7 linked regions of the Homo sapiens genome follow. The protein of the gene in region 5 interacts with the protein of the main gene of each other region in a pairwise test. Each region holds a gene or a part of one and is shown on either strand. Other genes may lie near its edges.

Region 1 (3,500 bases), on a different chromosome or scaffold from region 5:
GTTCTGCATGATTCCAAAAAAACACAAAGCTCCTGATTTTTTTAGAACAGGATATGCTCTCATATAAACCAACCCTGAATGTCCCTTAAATCCTTCAAAAGGTTTAAGTATTTATGTTTTTAATTTTGGGTGAATATACCCTGAAGCCTAAGTGGAGAATACATCAGGAAGTTTTCCATGAATAAATTACAATAACTGGGTCACATGACACGGCCATATTTATGTTGCTTTGAGAGACGGTGATGACAGGCTTTTCATCATCAGGCATGCAGAGATGTGTGTGTCTGCTTCAGGACCCCTCTGTAAAACCTCCCCACTCCACGACCCATCTGCCCTGCAGATCCGTGACACAGCGGCAAGGTAGGGCAGGTGCACCATCGCAGGCTCACCTTGGGCGGTTTCAGACTTTTCCCTCGATGCCTTTTGGAGCGCAACAGCCGTTCTCTCTCCTAGAAGGAAACACAACGGTTGGCATTTCCAGCCAGCCTCACATCTCACAAACCAAAGCCACTGGCTCTCAAAGGGAGCTGGGCCTGCCCATCCGCACCAGGCATGGCTAGTTGAAGTTCTAAGTGCCCAAGTGATGGCTGCTTCTCTGAACTGAGAGCTACAGGGAGAGTTTATTATCCACCTTTTGACTTTATTGTTATTTCACTGAAATATATTTTTCATCCTAAGCTGCATTGAGTCTTTTGTGTAATGAAGCAAAGATGGATGGATAGATAGATGTATGCATAGATAAGTGGATGGAAGGATGAAAGAATGGGTGAGTGGATGGATGGATGGGTGGACAGATGGGTGGGTGGATGGATGGATGGATGGATGGGTGAAAGGAAGAAAGAGAGAAGTTAAAGAGGTAGAGGGAGATGGAGGCAGGCAAAATGAACATGAAAATTATAATCAAAGCCTTTTCTAGAATTTTGATCACTAGCTTTTCTATTCTTTGAAAACCAGTGCATGGAACCATCACACACCCACTTTGGTGAGCAGAACACGTTCTACTTCTAAGATCCAACTAAAGCTCCCTGCAGGTGTTCTCTGCCTGTTGCCGAAGTTCCTTTCACAGAGAGCTGTGGAATTCTCTGGATGCAATTCTCCACCGCTTAGGACATACTCAACCCCCTTTGATAGATGCACGCCCCATATACACGTCCAAAACTCACACAGGCAGTCTTAGCAAGGTGCTGGTCTGGTTATAAGGTTCAAGTTTGTGGGCCTAAACTCACAGTCTGCAACTGCTAAGCTAAAAACCAACCAACCAACCAACCAAACAAACAAAAAGCCTTCTCTGGAACAGATCATGCCCAGTCTCTAAAGGCCAAAAGACATCCTTAAAACTGATGCTTCTCAATCACAGCAAGCTAGGGAGAAGATGTGAGAAAAGGGTAGCCATGGAAACTGTCCCCAAGTACCAGTGATCTCATTTAAGCCAAGGCTGCTTAGTGGCAGAATGAAGCGGGAATGTGCACACCAGGGTGAGCTTGGTGAGTCCCAAAGTCAGCACTGCCTGACCCTGACCCAGCTCAGCAGCATCACCCTGAGCCCCAACACCCGTTCCTGACACCCATGTCAGCTGGTGCCACCCCTGCCAGGGGCAGCCGCGCCAGCTGTGCTAGATGTACCAGTGAGAGGTCGTCAATGACGTGCTGCTGCTCCAGCACCTGCAGCCTCAGGAACTCGATCTCCTGCTCATCCCTCGTCAGGCTGAGGTCATTCAAGGAGGTATGCCGCTTCAGAGACGCCTGCGCTGACAGCTTTTCTTTCTGCAGCCACAGGGAGACAGACCACCACAGGGTTACCCGCCAACAGTGTTTGTTAGGGACAGTGCTGGAGTGGAGCTCAGGGGTGCAGGGACAGAAGGATGGATGGGAGGATGAAAGAGATGATGGCCTGATATGGTTTGGCTGTGTCCCCACCCAAATCTCATCTTGAATTGCGGCTCCCAGAACTCCCGTGTGTTGTGGGAGGGGCCAGGTGGGAGATCATTGAATCATGGTGGCGGTTTCTCTCATACTATTCTCGTGGTTGTGAATAAGTCTCTGATGTTTTTATAAGGGTTTTCCCCTTTTACTTGGCTCTCAGTCTGTCTTGTCTGCCGCCAAGTAAGATGTGCCTTTAGCTTTCTGCCATGATTGTGAGGCCTCCCCAGCCACGTGAAACTGTGAGTCCATTAAACCTCTTTTTCTTTACAAATTACCCAGTCTCAGGTATGCCTTTATCAGCAGTGTGAAAATGGACTAATACGTGGCCACCTTGTCCTGTGCTGGAAGAGGGGACAGGGCAGACCAAAGCCAAGCCCAAGGTGGGGCTGACCATGCACACTGCTGACAGGAAGGGATGCGCAGGGCCTGGGGGTGGAAGACGACATTTGAAATGAGCCTAGAAACCTGGGAGGGGAAGGCAGGGGAAGGAGAGGACTTCACACAACAGCAATTACACACACACACACACACACACACACACACCTGCATCTGCTACAGTGCAGACAGCAGAGCATGTGTGGTGACAGAGCCTCCGTCTTCCCGGCTGTGAAGTGGGGGTTGATACTACTCTGAACAATGAACCTGAAATCATTCTGTAAACTGTCAACTACAAGACGCCTGCCCTGACCACAAACACCAGGCATCCTAGCTGGAGGAGAAACCCCTCTGCAGAGCATCGCCAGCGATCATTGTAACAGCTTTCACTTGCTGGGTGTCCTCTGGGCCCGTTCCCTGTGAGGTCTTTACATGCTGTTATTTCATCCTCTTGATGATCCTCCAGTGTGGATATTTTCATTCCCATTTTATGCATGAAGAAACAGAGGCTCAGAGAGAATGGGGGATGTGTTTAAGGACACAGCTGTCTGACTCCCTCTGGGCACAAACACCCACAGCACAGTGAATGTGAGACAGGTGGAGAGAAAGGCGAGACATCTGTGACTGACACTGTGCCTGGTGCTTTGTGGGGAGGTGGGCAGCAGGTGCGCCCCAGAACATGTGAATCGGGAGGTTCAGGGCTGAAGAATCCCAGACAGAGAAGGGAGTGTCAGGGCTGTCCCCAAGGGGTCCACAGCTCACCATTTCCACGTTTTCCCGCGTGAGGTTCTTGATTTTCTCCTCCATCCTCTGGATACTCTGCAACAGATCCTCATTCTTCTTGTTCATCCGCTTGTTCTTCTCCACCAGGGGCTTCAGCTGAACCTCGGTCTCTCGTGAGCGTTTCAGCTGTGGTTGGAAACAGACACAGAGGCTCAGACAACTTGACGACGGACGGCCGAGGTCACAGCACCGAGGTGAGCAGAGACTCAACCCAGTTAGGACCCCTTCTGAGGCCAGTGTCCTGGATGACACATTTGTTTGCTAGTTGCATGACAATGGGCAAGTTCTCAGCCTCAGTTTCCTCATCTATCAAATGAGAATCACGGCAGCTCCTGTCTCCTAGGCACATGGTGAGAATTGAATGCATAGTGGTAGTCTCCCAGTGTTATTTTCATGGAAAGAATTAGAAACAACTTAAAT
Region 2 (3,500 bases), on a different chromosome or scaffold from region 5:
TTAACTGAAGCAGTTCATTCTTTGGGAGTAAATGATATTTTGGAGATAAAATTTTTTGAAAATCGGGCAAATGGCCAGTCAAAGGGGTAAGTTTTTTTTTTCTTTCTTTTTGATTTAGTAGCTAGTGATACAGTTTTTACAAGTTAACTTTCCTTTAAGTTAATGTTAATTACACATGTATACACATGTATACAAACAACACATGATTGTTTACATTGGAAGGAGGTTCTTGGGCAAAGATTGATACTTTTCATTTTACGTACCCTATTACCTAACACACTAAAACCAGTAGAGTGGAAATGTGGACAGATTTATTTTCTATTTTTCCCAAGTTTTCTCTATCTGTGGTTGAAATGGTTGTTGAAATGACAGTTTAAGAACCATTACTCTCCCTGTGATTAAGAGATGGGAGAAGATGGGCAACTGAATAATGTGTTACATGGATATTTTGCTTTATTTCACTACTAAACTATACAAGTGGGATAGCCTCAGCATGAGAACATTATAAATACAGATATCTAAAAGTAAGAAAATAAAATACCACTGTCCTACCATTCATTGATGTTTACTTTTAACATTTTAGTGAAGATTCTTTTGGGCTTTTTCCTAAAAATAAATAAATAAATAAATAATGGAATTATAATTCATGTGTTTTATATGTTTGATATAAGGAATAAAAATAAATACACATCCTCTCTAATGTCTAATTCTTTTGCATCATACCTGGTATGCTACTGTAATTTACCTTTCTTATTTTTGGTTATCGTGGTGGTTTCCACTTTTGCCTATTGTAAATAATGTTGCAGCAGACATCATTTTATATAAGTCTTTTGGTACAGATTTTGGATTTTCTTTTAAGGATAAATTGTTAGATGCACAATGATAAAGAATTTTCTTATTTCTTATATTGCTTACTTATCTTAGAAGATTATACCAATTTATACTAAACTGAGAATATTTTCAAAATATATGCAGAGTCTGAATACTTCTCACTAACTTTACTTATACCACTTGGTCAAAGCCACTATCATCTCTCACTTAAACTTTGGCAGTAGCTTCCTAACTGGAAGTATAGACTGCCCCCTACAGTCTGTACTCCACATAACAGAAGTTCTAAAAAAAAAATGACATTCTGCTCAATCTTCTCATGGTTTCCTGTCTGTCTCATTCTTTACCATTGTCTACAAGGTACTTTCTGGTCTGTTTTCCCACCACCTTTCTAACCCTATCCTACCACTCTTTTTCAGCCACATTAGTCTCTTTGCTGTTGGCCAGACCAATTCCTACCTAGGACCTTTAGCTGTTTTCTCTTCTTGGTTTACTTTTCCCCCTCAAATATCCACATGGCTTACTCTTTGACTTCATTCAGGACTCAAACTGTTTAAGAGTTTTCTTCCATGACCATCTTGTGCAAAGTAGCACCTTCCTATCCTGTTTCCTTTATTTCTGCTCTGATATATTTTACTCGTTTGTTGTCTCCTCTTCCAAGCCTTTAAGCTTAATGAGAACAGAGATTTTGTTTTGTTCTCTATTACTTCTCCAGCTCTAGAATGGTACCTTGCGTATAAGAAGTGGTGCTTAATAAATATTTGTTAAATTAATTTAGTTTTTTCTAAATGTTGTGACCCAAGATAATCCTGGTGCAAACAGCAGAACTTGTTGACTAAAATAAGAAGGATAATTTAAAAGATCATATTGAACATTAGGGGGAAAAGAGCTTAAGCTTCTTAAGCTACTAAGACCCTCCCTCCCTCAAATAATTTAGAATATCCTGTAACTATACGAATTGGTAATCATTCTGATTATTTTAAATTTGTTTTTCTTTTTGAGGTATAATTCATATGCCATAAAATGCAGGCTTTTAAATGTACAATTCAATGATAATTTATTATATTTATGAAGTTTAGCAACCATTACCACTGTCTCATTCCAGAACATTTCATCACTCCAAGAAGGAACCTTGTACCTGGTTAGCAGTCACTCCCATTTCCTCTCTTCCTATCTGCTGGCAACTGCTAACGTGCTCTGGATATGCCTGTTCTGGACATTTCATCTAAATGGAATCATAAAATACGTAGTCCTATGTGACTGGCTTTTTTCCTTAGCATAATGATTTTAAGGTTCATCCATGTTGAAGCATGCATCAGCATTTCTTTTTATGGCTGAGTAATATTCCACTACATGGATATAGCACTTTTTTCTTTTAATCTATCAGTCGATGGACGTCTAGGTTATTTCCACTTTTGGCTATTAAGGAAAATGCCCCTGTGAATATTTGTGTACCCATTTTGTGTGAACATGTATTTTCAGTTCTGTTGGATGTGTACCTAGGAATGGAATTACTGGGTTAATATAGTAACTCTATGTTTAAATGTTTGAGGAATTACCAGATTATTTGCCAGAGGCATTGTGCCATTTTATTAATACGTGCTCATCAGCAATGTGCAATGGTTCCAGTTTCTCCACATATTTATTTATTTATTTATTTATTGAGACAGAGTCTCACTCTGTCACCCAGGCTGGAGTGCAGTGGCGCAATCTTGGCTCATTGCAACTTCTGCCTCCCAGGTTCAAGCGATTCTCCTGTCTCAGCCTCCCAGCGTGGGACTACAGGCACACGCCACCATGCCTGGCTAATTTTTGAATTTTTAGTAGAGACGGGGTTTCACCATGTTGGTCAGGCTGGTCTTGAACTCCTGACCTCATGATCCTCCTGCCTTGGCCTCCCAAAGTGCTGAGATTATAGGCGTGAGCCACTGCACCCGGCCTCTCCACATCTTTAATACTTGTCTTTTTGATTATAGCCACCCTAGTGGGTATGGGGTGGTATCTTGTGGTTTTGATTTGCACTTCCCCAATAGTTAATGATATTGTACATCTTTTTATTGTAGCAAAAAGTGGAAGCAACCCAAATGTCCATGAACTGATGGATACATTTCTTTTAATGTTGTATATTTATAATGGAAAATTATTCACCCATAAAAGTAAGTGGTGATGCATGCTGTAACAGTGGATGAAGCTTGAAAACATGCTAGTTAAAGAAGGCTGGTCACAAGGGACCTCCTATTGTATGATTCCATTTAGATGAAATGTCTAGGATAGGCCAGTCCAGAGACAGAAATTAGGTTTAGTGGTTCCATAGGGTACAGGGATGGGAAGGAATGGGAGCGATGGCTAATGGATATGGAGTTTCTTTTTGGGGTGATGAAAATGTTTTAAAATTGATTATGGTGGTGGTTATAACACTGTGAAATACTAAAAACCACTGAATTATATATTTTGAATGACTGAATTCTATGGTATGTTATACAAGATGAACAAAAATGTGTACTCGTATAGTTAAGAAATATTTTTAGTTTTTAAAATTATTTATTTTTAGAGACAGGATCTCACTGTGTTGCCCAGGCTGGAGTGCAGTAGTGTGATTATAGGTTACTGTAGCCTCAAACTCCTGGGCTCAAGCAATCCTCGTGCCTCAACCTTCTAAGCAGCTGGGATTA
Region 3 (2,643 bases), on a different chromosome or scaffold from region 5:
ATGCAGATACGTCCGTGCACCGGCACAAACTCGGACACGTGTAGATACACGGGCAAAACGCACTCATGTAGACAAGGACTAAAGCAGCCACCTCAGCAGGCGTGCAGTCACACACGTATACACACCACAGGTGTGTGTGTACAAACGTTGCACTTTAACTTATCTAGATTCAATTAGTGTACACGTGTATGCCACACAAAGACTTTTTTTTTTTTTTGAGATGGAGTCTTGCTCTGTCACCCAGGCTGGAGTGCAGTGGCGCAATCTCGGCTCACTGCAACCTCTCCCTCCCAGGTTCAAGCGATTCTCCTGCCTCAGCCCCGAGTAGCTGCGATTACAGGAGCCTGCCACCACGCCAAGCTAATTTTTGTATTTTTAGTAGAGACGGGGTTTCACCATATTGGCCAGGCTGGTCTTGAACCCCTGACCTCAGGTGATCCGCCCACCCTGGCCTCCCAAAGTGCTGGGATTACAGGCGTGAGCCACCGCGCCCGGCCCAGACACAGACTTATACATGGGCACACACACAGACACACAGGGACACATGCCTGTCTCCAGGCATGCACACAGACCCCCCCGCCAACCTGCAAGGTGTCCCTGTATGACATGGGTCTTGACAGTGACCACGTTTCCCCATCAGGTCCTGCACCCTGCACAGGTGGCCCCAAGCCGCTGTCACCTGCGTCTAGCCAGGACAAGCTGCCCCCACTGCCCCCACTACCGAACCAGGAAGAGAACTACGTGACCCCCATTGGAGATGGCCCAGCTGTTGACTATGAGAACCAAGATGGTGGGTGGGGAACAGAGCTGCTGAGAGCTGGGGGTTGGGGAAACAGGTTAACAGCTGATGTGACACGTTACACTTTTGTCCACGCAGTGGCTTCCTCTAGTTGGCCAGTCATCCTGAAGCCAAAGAAGTTGCCAAAGCCTCCTGCCAAGCTTCCAAAGCCACCCGTTGGACCCAAGCCAGGTTGGGGTCCCCCCCATATCCCACCCTCACCTGATGGCAGGCCAGCCTCAGCCCTCATCTGACTTTTTTTTTTTTTTTTGAGACAGTCTCACTCTGTCGCCCAGGCTGGAGTGCAGTGGCACAACCTTGGCTCACTGCAAGCTCCGCCTCCTGGGTTCACGCCATTCTCCTGCCTCAGCCTCTCCAGTAGCTGGGACTACAGGTGCCCGCCACCATGCCCAGCTAATTTTTTTTTTTGTATTTTTAGTAGAGACGGGGTTTCACCATGTTAGCCAGGATGGTCTTGATCTCCTGACCTCGTGATCCGCCCACCTCGGCCTCCCAAAGTGCTGGGATTACAGGCGTGAGCCACCGCACCCAGCTCATCTGTCTTTATTGTTGTTTTTTGTTTTGAGATGGAGTCTCACTCTGTTGCCCAGGCAGTGGCGCGATCTCAGCTCACTGCAACCTCTGTCTGCCGGGTTCAAGTGATTCTCCTGCCTCAGCCTCCCAAGTAGCTGGGATTACAGGCACCTGCCACCACGTCCATCTAATTTTTGTATTTTTAGTAGAGAAGGGGTTTCACCATGTTGCCCAGGCTGGTCTCGAACTCCTGACCTCAAGTGATCCACCCACCTCAGCCTCCCAAAGTGCTGGGATTACCGGCGTGAGCCACCACACCTGGCCTCATCTGTCTTCTCTTCCAGAGCCCAAAGTCTTTAATGGTGGCTTGGGCAGGAAGCTGCCAGTCAGTTCAGCCCAGCCTCTCTTCCCCACAGCCGGTAAGGGGTCTGCGGGGTCAGTGCGGGGCGGGCTTCCCAGGTGTGTGACCGTACAGTCACACAAGTCCCCACACTCCGAAGCGCCCTGTCTTTTAAGGTTCTGCTGTCTCTGTCTTGAAATTCTTAATGCCTTCGAGCACACTGTCCTGTTGCACGGGGCCCTGCAAATCTGTAGCTGGTCCTGGGTGGCTGTCAGGGCGGTGGGCATGGACTGGGGATCCCTGAGCCAGCTGCAGCTCCTGGTCCTGAACCCCCAGGGCTGGCAGACATGACGGCAGAGCTACAGAAGAAGCTGGAGAAGAGGCGGGCACTGGAGCACTGATTCGGACACACCAGGGACCAGCGGGCTAGTCCCAGGGCATGGCCCAGCGGCCAGATTCTTTTTCCCAGGATTAAAACTCTGACCCCAGGACCCATGTGTCTGGCTTGGCTTGGGGGATTAGGGGACGAGGGGTCCGTCAGATGTCTGCCTACGGATGGCCCCATTTACTCCCAGTGACCCTCAGCTCAGTGAAATCTACCACCATATTCTGTGAGAAAAGCCCATTTTACAGCTGGGAAGGATGAGGTCCCGGTGCCACACCCAGGCCCAAAGAACCAGCACCGCGGCCTCGCCTGGCCAGTGTCTGACCTTTATTAAGAGGTGAGGTGGGGAGAGGGCCCGCCAGGGTGCCCACTCCCTCTTGGTGACCCCCCCATCTGGAGTTAAGGCTCCAAGCAGCAAGTGACAGAGGAGGGTGCCTGGCTCCAGCAGCCTGGGCTTGGCGGCGACTCCCCCAAAAACACCCCAGCTGGGTGGGTGCCTGGGGGCCTAGGTGAGGCTGGTGTTGGAGCTGCTGGTAGCACTGCCTCGCTTTTGCAGGCAGCGCACAGCACTGGGGACCTGCAGGCCTGTCGTCACCTGGAAGCTGC
Region 4 (3,500 bases), on a different chromosome or scaffold from region 5:
GAGGAAAGATAGCTTAACTTCAGAGGGACGCTCTGACTTCAGGGAAGATTACCTGACCATCCCATCCCCCTTTCCAGCTCCTCTCTCCACTGAGAGACATCCATCGCTAAATAAAATTATCTGCCTCCACCATCCTTCAAGTGTCAGCATGACCTCGTTCTTCTTGGACACCACACAAGGGCTTGGGACCCACTGGATGCAGGTACCCAAAAAAGGCTGTCACACTAGCCCTTTGCCCTTGCTGGTGGAGTGTAGACACCCCACATGACAAGACAAGGGGCCCACTGAGCTGATAACACTGCTGTCCATAAACGGTAAAGCTAAGCTAAGAGGGCATTGTAGCATGCCCTCTGGGATTCTGGGGATCACAGGCACTCCCACCTGGGCACCGCCACAGGGTGTGCATGGAGCTTGCTCCTGCCGGCACCCAAAGCAGCCAGCCTGAACCCACTCGCTTGCTCACGTGCTCCCTCCTGCAAGGGGTTGAGTGTGGCAGGCTGAGTAAACAGGGCACCCCCATTGCAAATCTGACAAAGGGGTCGAGAAAAATCCTGCATCATCAGGTCAAGAAAAACTGATCCCCGAGAGCCAGGAAACAATTGCAATGAGCCCTATTGAAACAACTGCGATGAGCTCTATGTGAGGACAGATCCTTGCAGAGATTTCCAGAATACTGGAAAAGAGAGCTACACACAGACACAGCACAACAGAGAGGGTCCTCGCTGGGTTATTTACCTTTGTAATGATCAGCACAGGCAAGTGAGGAAACACCCCAAGACCAGGGAAAGGTCCAAGGTACACTACAGTCACAGAAGAACGGGAATATTGCCTGTTCCCATTAGCTAGGGTAAAAAAACTCATAATCCACAAAGGAATGGGTAGAGTACACAGAAGGGTCTTGCCTTAGTAGGGGGGAATACTTAATTCTAAACTGTGCATTTCTCTGGTTTCACGTAAATCTTAAAGCAAGACATGAAAGAATCAAACTGTTTCAAACTATTTTAACTATGTACCAGAAAAAATCACAAAATATTTATAGAAATACAAAAATATCTACCACCCAATAAAGTAAAATTCATAATGACTGACATCTAATAAAAATTATCAAGCATGCAGAAACGCAGAAAAATATGATCCATAATTTAGAAAACAATCAAAACTGAGCAGGACTGACATATATTAGAATTAGCAGACAAGGACATTAAGTGTGTAACTAGATTTCATGTGCTCAAAATGTTAAGTACAGGTAGAAAAGACATGAAAAAATTCAAATAAAATTTCTAGAGATAAAAACTATAATGTATAAGATGAAAAATATACTGCATGAAATTAATGGCACATTAGACACGTCAGAAGAAAATATTAGCAAATCTGAAGGCACAGCTATTGAGACTACACAGAATGGAGAAGACAGTAAAATTAAAAAAACAAAAAACAAAAATCAGAATTGAGAGCATCAGTGAGCTGCAGGCCAACTTTAAGAAGATTAACATACCAGTATTTGAAGAGGGGAGAGATGGAAGGGCAAAAAAATTATTTTAAGAAAGAATGGCAGAACATTTTCCAAATTTGATGAAGCTGTGAACACACAGATCCAAACATCTCAAAACACTGATTCACGAGAAACATGAAAACATATTAAGGTATATCATTGCCAAACTGCTCAAAACTGGTGAAAAAAAAAAGTTTTTAAAGCACCCAGAGAAAAAGACACATTGCATATAAAGGAACAATGATAAGGATAACAACAGATTTCTTACTATTAATAAAATGATGCAAGTCTGGCTGGACGCGGAGGCTCACACCTGGAATCCCAGCACTTTGGGAGACCAAGGCGGGCAGATCACCTCAGGTTGGGAGTTTGAGACCAGCCTGACCAACATGGAGAAACCCTGTCTCTACTAAAAATACAAAAATTAGCTGGGCATGGTGGTGCATGCCTGTAATTCCAGGTACTCGGGAGGCTGAGGCAGGAGAATCGCTTGAACCCAGGAGGCGGAGGCTGCAGTGAGCCGAGATTGTGCTATTGCACTCCAGCCTGGGCAACAAGAGCAAAATTCTATCTAAAAAAAAAAAAAAAAAGAAAAAGAAAAAAACAAAAACAAAAATAATGCAAGTCTGAAGACAATAAACAATAATAACAACTGTAATCTAGAATTCTTAGACCTCTAGGCCCTGATGTCTTCTCTGGTGACTTCTACTGAATATTTAAGGAGGAAATTATACCAATTATATATAAATCCTTCCAGAAAATTGAAAAGGAGGAAATGTTTACTATCTAAAAAGGCCGGATTATCTAGATATCAAAACCAGACAAATCCAGACATAGAAAAGATTCCTATGTCCCAATATCCCTCATAAGCACAGATGCAAAAGTAATAAACAAACTACTAGTAAATCAAATCCAACAATATGAGAATACGTCATGACCAAGTAGAGATATCCAGGAATACACAACTGGTTTAACATTCAAAATAAATGCAATTTACCATCTTAATGTTATAAAAGAAAACTACATGATTATTTAAACAGACACAAAAATTGTATGTGATAAAATCCAACATCCATTACTGATTAAAAAAAAACAACCCTTTATAAATTAAGAATAGAAAGGAACTCCTCACTCTGGTGAAACACATCTTATGAGAAACCTAAAGCTAAAATCATGCTAAATAATGAAAGACTGAATGCTTTCCCTCCAAGTTCACAAACAAGAGAAGGATATCTATTCTCACCACTTCTATTCAACCCTGTATTGGAAGTTCTAGCCAGTGCAATAGAGCAAAAATAAATAAAATGTATTCAGATTGTGAAGCAAGACTTAAAATGGTCTTTATCTGCAGATGACATGATTGTCTAATTAGAAAATTCAATAGAATCTACAAAAAAAGCTCTTCTAATAACTGAGTTTAGCAAGGTTACACAATACAAAATCAATATGCAAAAATAAATTATATTTTTGTATCCTAGAAATAATCAGAAATTGAGACAATAAATCAGAAATTGAGACACCATTTATAACAGCATAAAAATGAAATAATTAAGGATAAGCCTGGCAAAGTATGTGAAAGACCTATACACTGAAAACTAAAAAACACTCATAGAGAGAAATTTTAAAAGATCTAAACAAATGAAGAGATATATACCACATTCAAAGGTTGGAAGACTCGATGTTGTTAAAATGGCAATTCTCTTCAAATAAATATATAAATTCAATGTGATCCTAATCAAAATCCCAGTAGACTTTTTGTAGAAATTAACCAATTTAATTTTTAAAATTCACATGAAAATAGAGCTCAGAATAATCAAAATTTTCTTAAAAAAGAAGAAAGAAATCAGACTAATGCTACTTTAGTTTCAAGAAAGAGATATATAGATCAATGCAACAAAATAGAGAGTCCATAAATAAATCTACACAGATATGTATTTTCATGAGAGTCCAAAGGGAAAGCTGTGGAACATGAATAGTCCCTTCAACAAAGGATGATGCTTTCTCTGTA
Region 5 (4,155 bases):
TTTATAATAAAACTGGTCATTCTATTTTATATTCTTCACATAGATTGTGAATAGCTACACTCAAATTACTTAGGTTTCTGCATTAACTGTATTTGCTGGTATAATTTTAAGAAGAAGAAAATACTTGTAAAAATAATGTCACTCACTTGACATAGAAAATTGACCACAGGCCGGGCGCGGTGGCTCACGCCTGTAATCCCAGCACTTTGGGAGGCCGAAGCGGACGGATCACGAGGTCAGGAGATCGAGACCATCCTGGCTAACATGGTGAAACCCCGTCTCTACTAAAAAATACAAAAAATTAGCCGGGCGTGGTAGCAGGCGCCTGTAGTCCCAGCTACTCGGGTGGCCGAGGCAGGAGAATGGCGTGACCCCGGGAGGCGGAGCTTGCAGTGAGCCAAGATCGCGCCACTGCACTCCAGCCTGGGCGACAGAGCGAGACTCCGTCTCAAAAAAAAAACAAAACAAAACAAAAAAAAAAGAAAATTGACCACAAAGAATGAGTTCAATAATGTTCTGAATTTAATAAAGGATTGATTAAATTCTGCTCAGTAGTTACAAGTAACTGAACATTTTTTTCTCAATGGAAGAATAAATTCAGAATATATCAGTTTTTAAAAAACGAATGAGAATATGAATAGCAACTAAAACGATTAATAGGTGCATTCAATGAGAACTTTTTATTTCAATTATCCACAAAACAATATTACAATACTTTATAAAAATATTAAGTTTAGGCTACCATTATTCATTTAAAAAAGTGTGCTAGAAGGCTGTTTTTGCCAACTTCCTTTTTTGGTAAGGGTTAACTTCCACATTAAGACACTGAAGACGAAAAGCTGTTGGAAAATATCTCCAAATTTACAAAGTTGTTTTTCTTGGCAATTTAAAAATACAGAACAATTTAAAATGAATACACATTAAGTTAGTGTTTTATCCCTACTATACAATTGTTATTATATAAGGAACTGCTCCATTCAGTTAAAACCTAATGAATACCATCAACTTTTCCTGCCTTACTTTCCTGATTAGATTTAGTACATAAACGTAATTTTGTCACCCTTTTGAATATGCTTAGAAAAATTACAATATCATAGTTCACATAAAGCCCTTAAAAAATCTCATGTCACAAGTTGTTGATAAGAGGAAATAATGACAGCACTCTTCTTAGGAAGACCCTCTTGGTAGAGAGTGTCAATACTAAGCAGGTTACGTAAACAGAAAAAACAACCACAATTTTTAGTACCAGAACCACTGCCAACTTGCATGAAGTCCATCTTCACATTTTAAAAATGGTTTGAATTTGAACATATATGCCATGGCACAGAATTTCGAATCTGATGATTAAAATCAGGTAAATAATGATAGTTAAGAATTATATCCTGAAAATAGAGGGGCCTAATATAAGGCTTAATTTAAAGTGTGACTATATGAGAGTATTTTAAAACATATACACCAGACCTTCATTTTATTCATCAATTTTTCCTTTGCTAGACACTCAAACCACTAATGCTGCTATTCAAATCTGTATTTTGAAATTACTGAGTTACTCTTAAAAATTAGTCTTATTTTGTATGTTTCACTTTTGCACTTTAGGGTAAAAACTGTCCCCTTTTCACCACCGTTAATATTCAGAATAAGTTTTCCTCCCCAAATCAACCATTTAATGTATTCTAAAAGGGAAAAAATGACCACCATTACATAGACTTTAGAAGTGAATGTAGGCTGGGCGCGGTGGCTCACGCCTGTAATCCCAGCACTTTGGGAGGCCGAGGCGGGCAGATCACAAGGTCAGGAGATCGAGACTATCCTGGCTAACACGGTGAAACTGCGTCTCTACTAAAAATACAAAAAACTAGCCAGGCGTGGTGGTGGGCACCTGTAGTCCCAGCTACTCGGGAGGCTGAGGCAGGAGAATGGTGTGAACCTGGGAGGCAGAGCTTGCAGTGAGCCGAGATCGCGCCACTGCACTCCAGCCTGGGCGACAGAGCGAGACTCCGTCTCAAAAAAGAAAACAAAAAAAAGTGAATGTAGATTCAAACATGATTTGAAAACTGGAGTTCTAAAAATGTTTTACATAAAAACCATATCCCACTGCAATGAATGTGAAGCCATAACTTCATTATTTTGAACAAATACCCATTTAGTGTGTAAGAAAAATTAGTTTTATAGTTATACTTTATAACTCTTCAAAGTCTCAGAATATAGCTAAGTGAGGAGCTCTGAGTGCCAGCAAAGCCATTCTGTCACTCCATGACATCAACATTAAACATTACCTTCCATCCCTCTAACTTGTAAAACTTTCACTTTCTTTTCTCGTATTTCTTTTAAATACATTTTCCTCTCTGTTCATCTATATTCACCATGAGCAAAAGTGCATTCAAGTCCCTGATCTGGTCATATTTTCTATTTGTGGCACCCATCCCCATAAGGACATATAAGCAATACTCACAGTACGAAGTCTAGTTTTTAAAAAGGGCTTTTAAAATGCTGGGTCTTACTTTGCATGCTATCTAAAGATCAAAACATTTCCCCTTTGATTGGACAGTAGTTTCAATTATATATTGCCTTAAAAAATCAATGCAACCTCATACAAGATTAACTCACTTTCTAGTTACCTTCATTATTCTAAGTCAAACTCTTCAGAAAAGGACTGAAGTGAAAAAGTTCTTATTCTTTCAGTTCCATGAACATGAATATTAATGTACTGCATTATACTTTCAAATTCCACTTCTGTGGTCTAACATTTAATCAAGTTTGAGATCCTGTTTATATTCCTTTTGAAAAACCTGGCCCATGTCCATGCAAAAGAAAGCATATATTAAGATTGCATACTGACTGTTTAACTTAGAAAAAACTTTTGAGAATAATAAATGCAAGAAACTTTAAAAAACTGGAATGGAATTATTTGGTCCCATGATATTCCTTAATTTTAGATTTTATTATGGTATAGCTTTTTATCTCTCAAGTTTTATCTGTAACAATAAATAATTTTCTTTGAGCAATTCTGACTTTGGGGAAAAAAAGAAAGGAAATGATTTATAAATAAGCAGGAGCCTCACTGTCCTTCATTACCATGCTGTCACCCACACTGTCATCAGTATCTTAGCTCTATTTTGTTTGGACCCTGAAATACGCTGATAAATTCATCATTGGTACATTAGAGTTTAATACTTGGGGAAAAAAAAGTGGTTTTGTGCAACCATATCTGGGATTCCAGTTTACCATTAAAAACATGCAGAGTAAAGAAGATTTTCTTCTTTTGATTCCTGTAGAAAATCTACACAAGTTCTTTATATTTTGGCAGATTTGTGCATATAAAATAGGCTACTTGAATTATAAATTTTCTCCTGGCTGGTACTGTGGCTCTGTAGCAGTGAAGTAGTCTTCCAAGAAGGACTGAATATATTCAAATGTTGGTCTTTCATCAGGGTCCTTCTTCCAACACAGATTCATCAATTCATGGAGGGATTCTGGACAGCCCTGAGGGCACGGCATCCTGTATCCTCGCTCCACTTGTTCTAATACTTCACGGTTCACCATACCTAATACACAAGATTAAAACATTAAAGAACAATGGTCCTAACTACCACTAGGAAAACATAACAAACCCCCTAGCCACTAACTCATTCAAAGTATATTATTTAGTGAAACAATTCTTTTAACAAAGCAACAAAATAAATTTTAAACATGAGAATATCAAGAAGAGCTTAGAAAATGCTAATCTATGTTTTAACATGTCTAATTTTTCATTCCATCTTATATCTTATTTTTAATACTAATGTCTTCAAAAGCCAACCCCATTTGATTAATAAGAATTTAGGGTGCTACTATGAGGTACTGGTACTTTCTAATATTAACATTTAACAATGACCAAACTTGGGTTACTGAGGAATGGTGGCAAGATCCTGTCTGAAAGAACTTTAAAACAGGAATTCAGAAGAAAGTTCTAGTCTTGGTTTTGCCAAATATACCAACTACATAACTTTATATTGAATTACTTCTGTGAAAGTTTCCTTATCTAATATTACCTGTTTGACTTTCTTCAAGATATTACACATAGTTCCTTTCTTGTATTCCTTTGTAATCCCCCCTTCCTCAACCCCCTGATCAGCAGTTCACCCCATCTTATCACAGGACAGCAAAATGCCTCCT
Region 6 (2,341 bases), on a different chromosome or scaffold from region 5:
TCCCTTACCATTACAAGAATATACATGGAGATAACCTGAAGGTAATTTCTCTGGTAACTGGGGGTAAAAGGGTGGGCACCTGTGTAGATAAAGAGTAGTTTTGATGGGGCAAGAAGGCCTCTCTCTCCAACCCACACCTAGGTATCTGTGCGCCAATGGTGTGGCTGCTGCTCCATTTTTGTGTCTTCTAGTCTAAGGACACACCTTGCTGGAGAAGAGCACCATGCTAAAACAGGAACCAGATGCTCTAGCAGTTGAAAGATCGTCAGAAAAATCCAGGTAATCAGCAACTTAGACCAAACCCTTGGAAAGACAGAGACTTCCTGAGATTCGGGGATGCATGCTGTTTTACTACTTCCTCAGCATTCACTTGACTAAGGCTCTCCTACATGGATGAGCTCTATGCAGCCAGGTGAAATCCATCTTAGGCTTCCTCTATCATTATGCAAATGCAGGTAATCAAGCATGACTGGCAATAACCACTATCAGTATACAAGATGTTGCATCACTTTACTTTAATTGCATGATTTATCAGAACAACTATTAACATACGAAGTACCATTCAGTTCAGCTGCAGGTATAGGCAGTGACAAGTATCTAATTCTTAGAAGAATCACTTACTCCCACAATCTGTCCAGACACATTAATCTAAGGACAAGTTTATAAATAGCAAACGTGATTTTCACATTGCAGTGTTCTCAAGAATGTATATACAAGTGTGTAGTCCTGTTGATGGGATGTTTCCCCGAGTTCTTTCTATTGATGCGTTCATGCTCTTGACCCTGGTAGAGACAGTTCTTTCTTTCCACAGAGCAGATTTTCTTTTGTCATCCACCATTTACAATACTCTGTGAATTAGTATTACTTATTACATTTATGAAACGGCAATATTTGGATTGTAATAGCTCTTCAGTACAATTCCTTGTGTCTTCTGGTAAGTCTCTGCACTATCAGAGAGCTTTTAGTTATAATCATTTTCCTGCAACAACAGCCAAACTCAACTATTGAGTTTCAGTGTGACACACCCTCTTTGTAGCTTGCTGGGTTAACCCTTGGCTTCAAGTCCTGATGATGTAATGAGGGTGGGGTGTATTGGCAATCAGTACATTTCCTTATCGCAATTTACAGTCATTGAAAATCATGCTGTCATTAATCCCAGTCTGACATACCTTTTCTAAAATGTTCACAGTGCAGTGTTTTTGTGGCCTAACAAAATTTTTCTCATATCATTAAAAATAAACATTTTTATAAAAAATATAACACTTTAAATGTTTACGTCGACAAAACCAGTTAGAGTAACCTACACCACATGCACTATACAGTAGCAAGCACAAAATTCCACAGAATGAAGCATCACAAAGTTCTGCTCAGGGTGGCTATTCCATCTAGGTGAAATAGCTGGGATTTTCAATTGCCTTTTTCATTTGTTTCTAAAGTATGTTTTGCTTAACATAAAACACACCCTAATGCAAAATAAAACTCCCCAAAAGTTTTGTTTCCAATTGCTTGCGAGGTGGGAACCTGCCACCGAGACAGAGGCTAATCTTTTCAATCCATCCACCCTTTCTTTGCTCTACCTATGAGCTGTGATTGGAACCAATGAACCTTTTAGTAAAATGTATCCTGCTTTACAAACATGCTGAGTTATCTTTAAAAATATTTATCAACAAATTACTTGTCTTATTTTGAGTTTTCATTTAAAAAAATACACACAAAACATCTACATGTTCACATTCATTAGATCAGAGTAGCATCATTCTCAAACAGTGGGTTTTTATATGACAACTAAATATTTCATGATGACTAAATTATTTCATACAAATTTTCTTAATGTCATCTATGTACATTACATCCTGTTCATTTATAAACATGTTTTGTGTGATGCTATTTTGAAACTTTGACTGTATTGCCTATAAATATTCTTCCAACCAAAGGAATGTCTATACAAAAATTTATAAGGGCTGGGCGCAGTGGCTCATGCCTGTAATCCTAGCACTTTGGGAGGCTGAGGTGGGTGGATTTCTTGAGTCCAGGAGTTTGAAACCAGCCTTGGCAACATGGCAAAACCCCGTCTCTACAAAAAATACAAAAATTAGCCGGGGATGGTGGTGTGCGCCTGTAGTCCCAGCTATTCGGGAGGCTTGAGCCTGGGAGGTGGAGGTTGCAGTGAGCTATGATCACACCACTGCACTACAGCCCTGGCAACAGAGTGAGATCCTGTCTCAAAAAACAAACAAACATTTAAAAGGGAATGTTTACCTAATGGGTGAATGACACCATCAGTAATGAAAAATGTTATTGACCATACAACACACAAAAGTGTTTTGAAACACTAGAATTC
Region 7 (3,500 bases), on a different chromosome or scaffold from region 5:
TTGGCGATGACCTTGAGCAGTGGGATATAAATAACTCCCACATGCTTAGCGTTCCAATAATGGAACACTAGGCATAAATGGGATAATCTAATATAGTTTTTTGAGACGGCATCTTGCTCTGTCGCCCAGGCTGGAGTGGAATGGTGCAATTGTGGCTCACTGTAGCCTCCGCCTCCTGGGTTCAAGCGATTCTCCTGCCTCAGCCTCCTGGGTAGCTGGAACTACAGGCGTGTGCCACCATGCCTGGATAATTTTTGTATTTTTAGTAGAGATGGAATTTCACCATGTTGGCCAGGCTGGTCTTGAAGAACTCCTTACCTCAAGTGACCCATCTGCCTCAGTCTCCCAAAGTGCAGGGATTATAGGTGTGAGCCACTGTGCCCGGCCATAATCTAATATAGTTTTAAAATATATTTTTAAATAGCACCTAAAGAATTGGGTTGAGCTACATAAAAGTGCTTTTTTTTTGAGACGGAGTCTCGCTCTGTCGCCAAGGCTGGAGTGCAGTGGCGCGATCTCGGCTCACTGTAAGCTCCACCTCTCGGGTTCACACCATTCTCCTGCCTCAGCCTCTGGAGTAGCTGGGACCACAGGTGCCTGCCACCAAGCCCGGCTAATTTTTTTTTGTATTTTTAGTAGAGACAGGGTTTCACTGTGTTAGCCAGGATGGTCTTGATCTCCTGACCTCGTGATCCACCCGCCTCGGCCTCCCAGAGTGCTGGGATTGCAGGCATGAGCCACCGCGCCCGGCCAAATGTGCTATTTTTTAATAGGTGAAAAATAGTAAAATATCAACAGTGTTATATGGTTAAACTGAATATTTATATTGGAATTCAATAAATGTTCTTAAAATGTCTTCTTGTCACCTTTTACTTCAGGATATTTAAAAACTGCCCCAATATGTCTAAGTCTGTCGCTCTAAAACTGGTAAACAGCTTCTCCCCAAACTAATTAAAGGATTCAGTGCTTTTTCCAAATGTCAAGTTCCTATTATAAAAATAAAACATTATATTGTGTAACTAAAATAACAAAGAATTGTATGACATTTCTGGAAATGTAGCAGAAAAGAAGAATTCAAGTTGAATAGTAATATCTTGAACTTACCTTCTTCTGTTGGATTAAACCCACAGATGTCACAAATACAACGAACCCACTTATTCATCTCCTCCTCGCTGTCTGCTACCAAGTAGAAAATCCGGTCAATAGTGTTGATATCAAAAATGTAGCTGTTTTCAAACTCTTTTTTGTTAAATGTCAATCCAGCATCTACTTGTTGACATAAATTTAAATCAATAATACGAATAGGCTTCTTGGCATGATCATTTTTGTAATATTCCAAAACATCTGGATCTCCAGTTAAACGGCCACTGCGTAACACGAACCATCTCCTCTTCCATGCCTAGAAACAAAACAAAAATATCCATTCAGTATTAACTTGAGATAATGTTTTCAAGAAGATGCACATTTATCAAACTGATTTTACAAATGCATTGTTTAGAGAAAGTCACAATATGTGTGTGTTTGTGTGTGTGTTTTTACCACAGGATAATCTGCCACTCTGAAAAGCAACGTTTACTCATAACTCAATTAACTTAATAATGTATATATATATTCAGTATGTTCGATTAAATCTCCTACTATATAATATTGAGGCAATACATCAAGGAGGATTCAGTTTTTACTAAATATGAAAAAGTCATGGTTTCAACAAATGGTGTTAGGAAAACTAGAAATCCATACGCAAAAGAATGAAGCTGGACATTATGCTAAGTGAAATAAGCCAGTCATAAAAAGACAAATATTGTATGATTCCACTTATATGAGGTAGTTCAAGTAGTCAAATTCATACAGACAGAAAGCAGAATGGTATTTGTCAGGCCCTGCGGAGGGGGAGGGGTGGGAAATGGAGAGTTATTACAGTATTTAATGGGCCTAGAGTTTGAGTTGAAGAAGATCAAGTTCTGGAGATGATGGTGGCCATGGTTGCAATGGTGCTGTGAATGTATTAATACTTAATGCTAGTGAATTGTATATTAAAAATAGCTAAAATGATAAATTTTATGTTATGTATATTTTGCCACAATTTTTAAAAAAGCAACAGATTTTCATGCATTAATATTATGCCATAAAGAATACACATAAAGCTGCTTCTTCATAAGACTCCTACAGATTTTAAACACTTAAAAGATTTCTCTTTTTTTTAGGTGCGGTGGCAAGGAGTAGGGAGGGGGAAAGGTTTTGAAGCTTTTCTGGCTTCTTGACTGGGAAGCAATTGATTGTGTCTCTCTTTTAGCCACACAGCCTGTTGTTCAAAGACTATACGAGTAAGACCTGTATTCTTGAGTATGGGATTTAACTCTTTCTAATATTTCCCCTCCTCTTCCCAACAAACATACATGGGCAATCTGTAATACACTCACCACATACCCCCTCCACAAGTTCTGGTAAATTTTGAGTTTAATACTATACCTAGAGAAGCCTAAAAAATTATTTTACTATCACCCTCCCTAAATCTATGGTCACCAAATAATAAAAGCAGAACCAAATGACAAACAGCCTTCCTTATCAGCCTTTAACCCCAACATGTGTGCCTGGAAACAAACTTACACCTTACTCCTCTTTGAAATTCTTCCTCAGGGAGGCAGCTAGACAGAAAAGAGGCCTATTTTAGCAAGTCTCAGTCATTTACTAAGAAACATTCTCTGCTCCAGATTCAACATTCTAGGTAAGACTACCTCAAGAGGACACTCTGGGCCTGGGTGCAGTGGCTCATGCCTGTAATCCCAGCACATTGGGAGGCCGAGGTGGGCAGATCACCTGAGGTCAGGAGTTCGAGACCAGCCTGGCCAACATGGTGAAACCCCGTCTCTACTAAAAAATACAAAAATTAGCTGGGTGTGGTGGCAGGTTCCTGTAATCCCAGCTACTTAGGAGGCTGAGGCAGGAGAATCGCTTGAACCCGGAGTTGGCAGTTGCAGTGAGCTGAGATCACTGCGCTCCAGCCTGGACAGAAGAAGACTCCTCCTCAAAAAAAAAAAAAAAAAAAAAAAAGGGCAGCGGGGTGGTGGGGATGCTCTGGGAAGTGGAAGGACTCGAAAACCCCCAGTGGAATAAAACATTCCCTTTGCTACTTGTGGGAAGAAAAACAAGTATATAATTCATTATTCCTACCTTCAAAGAATTGACTAATTGTGGAAAAAAATATTTAACATACATGAAAATACTTGAGACTACAGCAACCCAGGCAAAATGTCTGCAGAGGTATTGCTACATGAACAAGCATTCCTCTACAGAAAAATTTAGGCAATCCTTTAACAAGAGGATGACCAGAGATCACAAAGGCCTAAAAACATTATATAGGTCTTTAATCATCAACATTTTAAATTAACTTCTCATTCTTCACGCAGCTCAAAGGAATAAGTATATAATTTGTGTCCAGGGAAGGCAGGGTAGAGTCCTATAGATGTTTTAGATAATATTGAAAAGTCATAAAGTGTTGG

The links.
Region 1: the proteins of YES1 (region 5) and JAKMIP1 interact in binary tests that used the Homo sapiens proteins (3 or more experiments, as listed by UniProt).
Region 2: the proteins of YES1 (region 5) and CPSF6 interact in binary tests that used the Homo sapiens proteins (3 or more experiments, as listed by UniProt).
Region 3: the proteins of YES1 (region 5) and STAP2 interact in binary tests that used the Homo sapiens proteins (3 or more experiments, as listed by UniProt).
Region 4: the proteins of YES1 (region 5) and ZNF438 interact in binary tests that used the Homo sapiens proteins (3 or more experiments, as listed by UniProt).
Region 6: the proteins of YES1 (region 5) and MET interact in binary tests that used the Homo sapiens proteins (3 or more experiments, as listed by UniProt).
Region 7: the proteins of YES1 (region 5) and GAB1 interact in binary tests that used the Homo sapiens proteins (3 or more experiments, as listed by UniProt).

What each region holds. Positions count from the first base shown.
Region 1 is NC_000004.12:6,078,550-6,082,049, forward strand, and holds part of JAKMIP1 (janus kinase and microtubule-interacting protein 1), read right to left. Parts: intron 3,207-3,500; coding exon 3,060-3,206; intron 1,764-3,059; coding exon 1,623-1,763; intron 450-1,622; coding exon 390-449; intron 1-389. UniProt on the Homo sapiens protein: Associates with microtubules and may play a role in the microtubule-dependent transport of the GABA-B receptor. May play a role in JAK1 signaling and regulate microtubule cytoskeleton rearrangements.
Region 2 is NC_000012.12:69,253,069-69,256,568, forward strand, and holds part of CPSF6 (cleavage and polyadenylation specificity factor subunit 6), read left to right. Parts: coding exon 1-86; intron 87-3,500. UniProt on the Homo sapiens protein: Component of the cleavage factor Im (CFIm) complex that functions as an activator of the pre-mRNA 3'-end cleavage and polyadenylation processing required for the maturation of pre-mRNA into functional mRNAs.
Region 3 is NC_000019.10:4,323,543-4,326,185, reverse strand, and holds the end of STAP2 (signal-transducing adaptor protein 2), read left to right. Parts: intron 1-640; coding exon 641-790; intron 791-877; coding exon 878-970; intron 971-1,518; coding exon of another isoform or gene 1,519-1,656; coding exon 1,657-1,731; intron 1,732-1,988; coding exon 1,989-2,053; 3' UTR 2,054-2,143; downstream 2,144-2,643. Other genes in the region: FSD1 (fibronectin type III and SPRY domain-containing protein 1), read right to left, coding at 2,543-2,643. UniProt on the Homo sapiens protein: Substrate of protein kinase PTK6. May play a regulatory role in the acute-phase response in systemic inflammation and may modulate STAT3 activity.
Region 4 is NC_000010.11:30,878,366-30,881,865, forward strand, and holds part of ZNF438 (zinc finger protein 438), read right to left. Parts: intron 1-3,500. UniProt on the Homo sapiens protein: Isoform 1 acts as a transcriptional repressor.
Region 5 is NC_000018.10:721,088-725,242, forward strand, and holds the end of YES1 (tyrosine-protein kinase Yes), read right to left. Parts: intron 3,546-4,155; coding exon 3,337-3,545; 3' UTR 501-3,336; downstream 1-500. UniProt on the Homo sapiens protein: Non-receptor protein tyrosine kinase that is involved in the regulation of cell growth and survival, apoptosis, cell-cell adhesion, cytoskeleton remodeling, and differentiation.
Region 6 is NC_000007.14:116,796,537-116,798,877, reverse strand, and holds the end of MET (hepatocyte growth factor receptor isoform b preproprotein), read right to left. Parts: 3' UTR 501-2,341; downstream 1-500. UniProt on the Homo sapiens protein: Receptor tyrosine kinase that transduces signals from the extracellular matrix into the cytoplasm by binding to hepatocyte growth factor/HGF ligand. Regulates many physiological processes including proliferation, scattering, morphogenesis and survival.
Region 7 is NC_000004.12:143,413,376-143,416,875, reverse strand, and holds part of GAB1 (GRB2-associated-binding protein 1), read right to left. Parts: intron 1,400-3,500; coding exon 1,105-1,399; intron 1-1,104. UniProt on the Homo sapiens protein: Adapter protein that plays a role in intracellular signaling cascades triggered by activated receptor-type kinases. Plays a role in FGFR1 signaling. Probably involved in signaling by the epidermal growth factor receptor (EGFR) and the insulin receptor (INSR).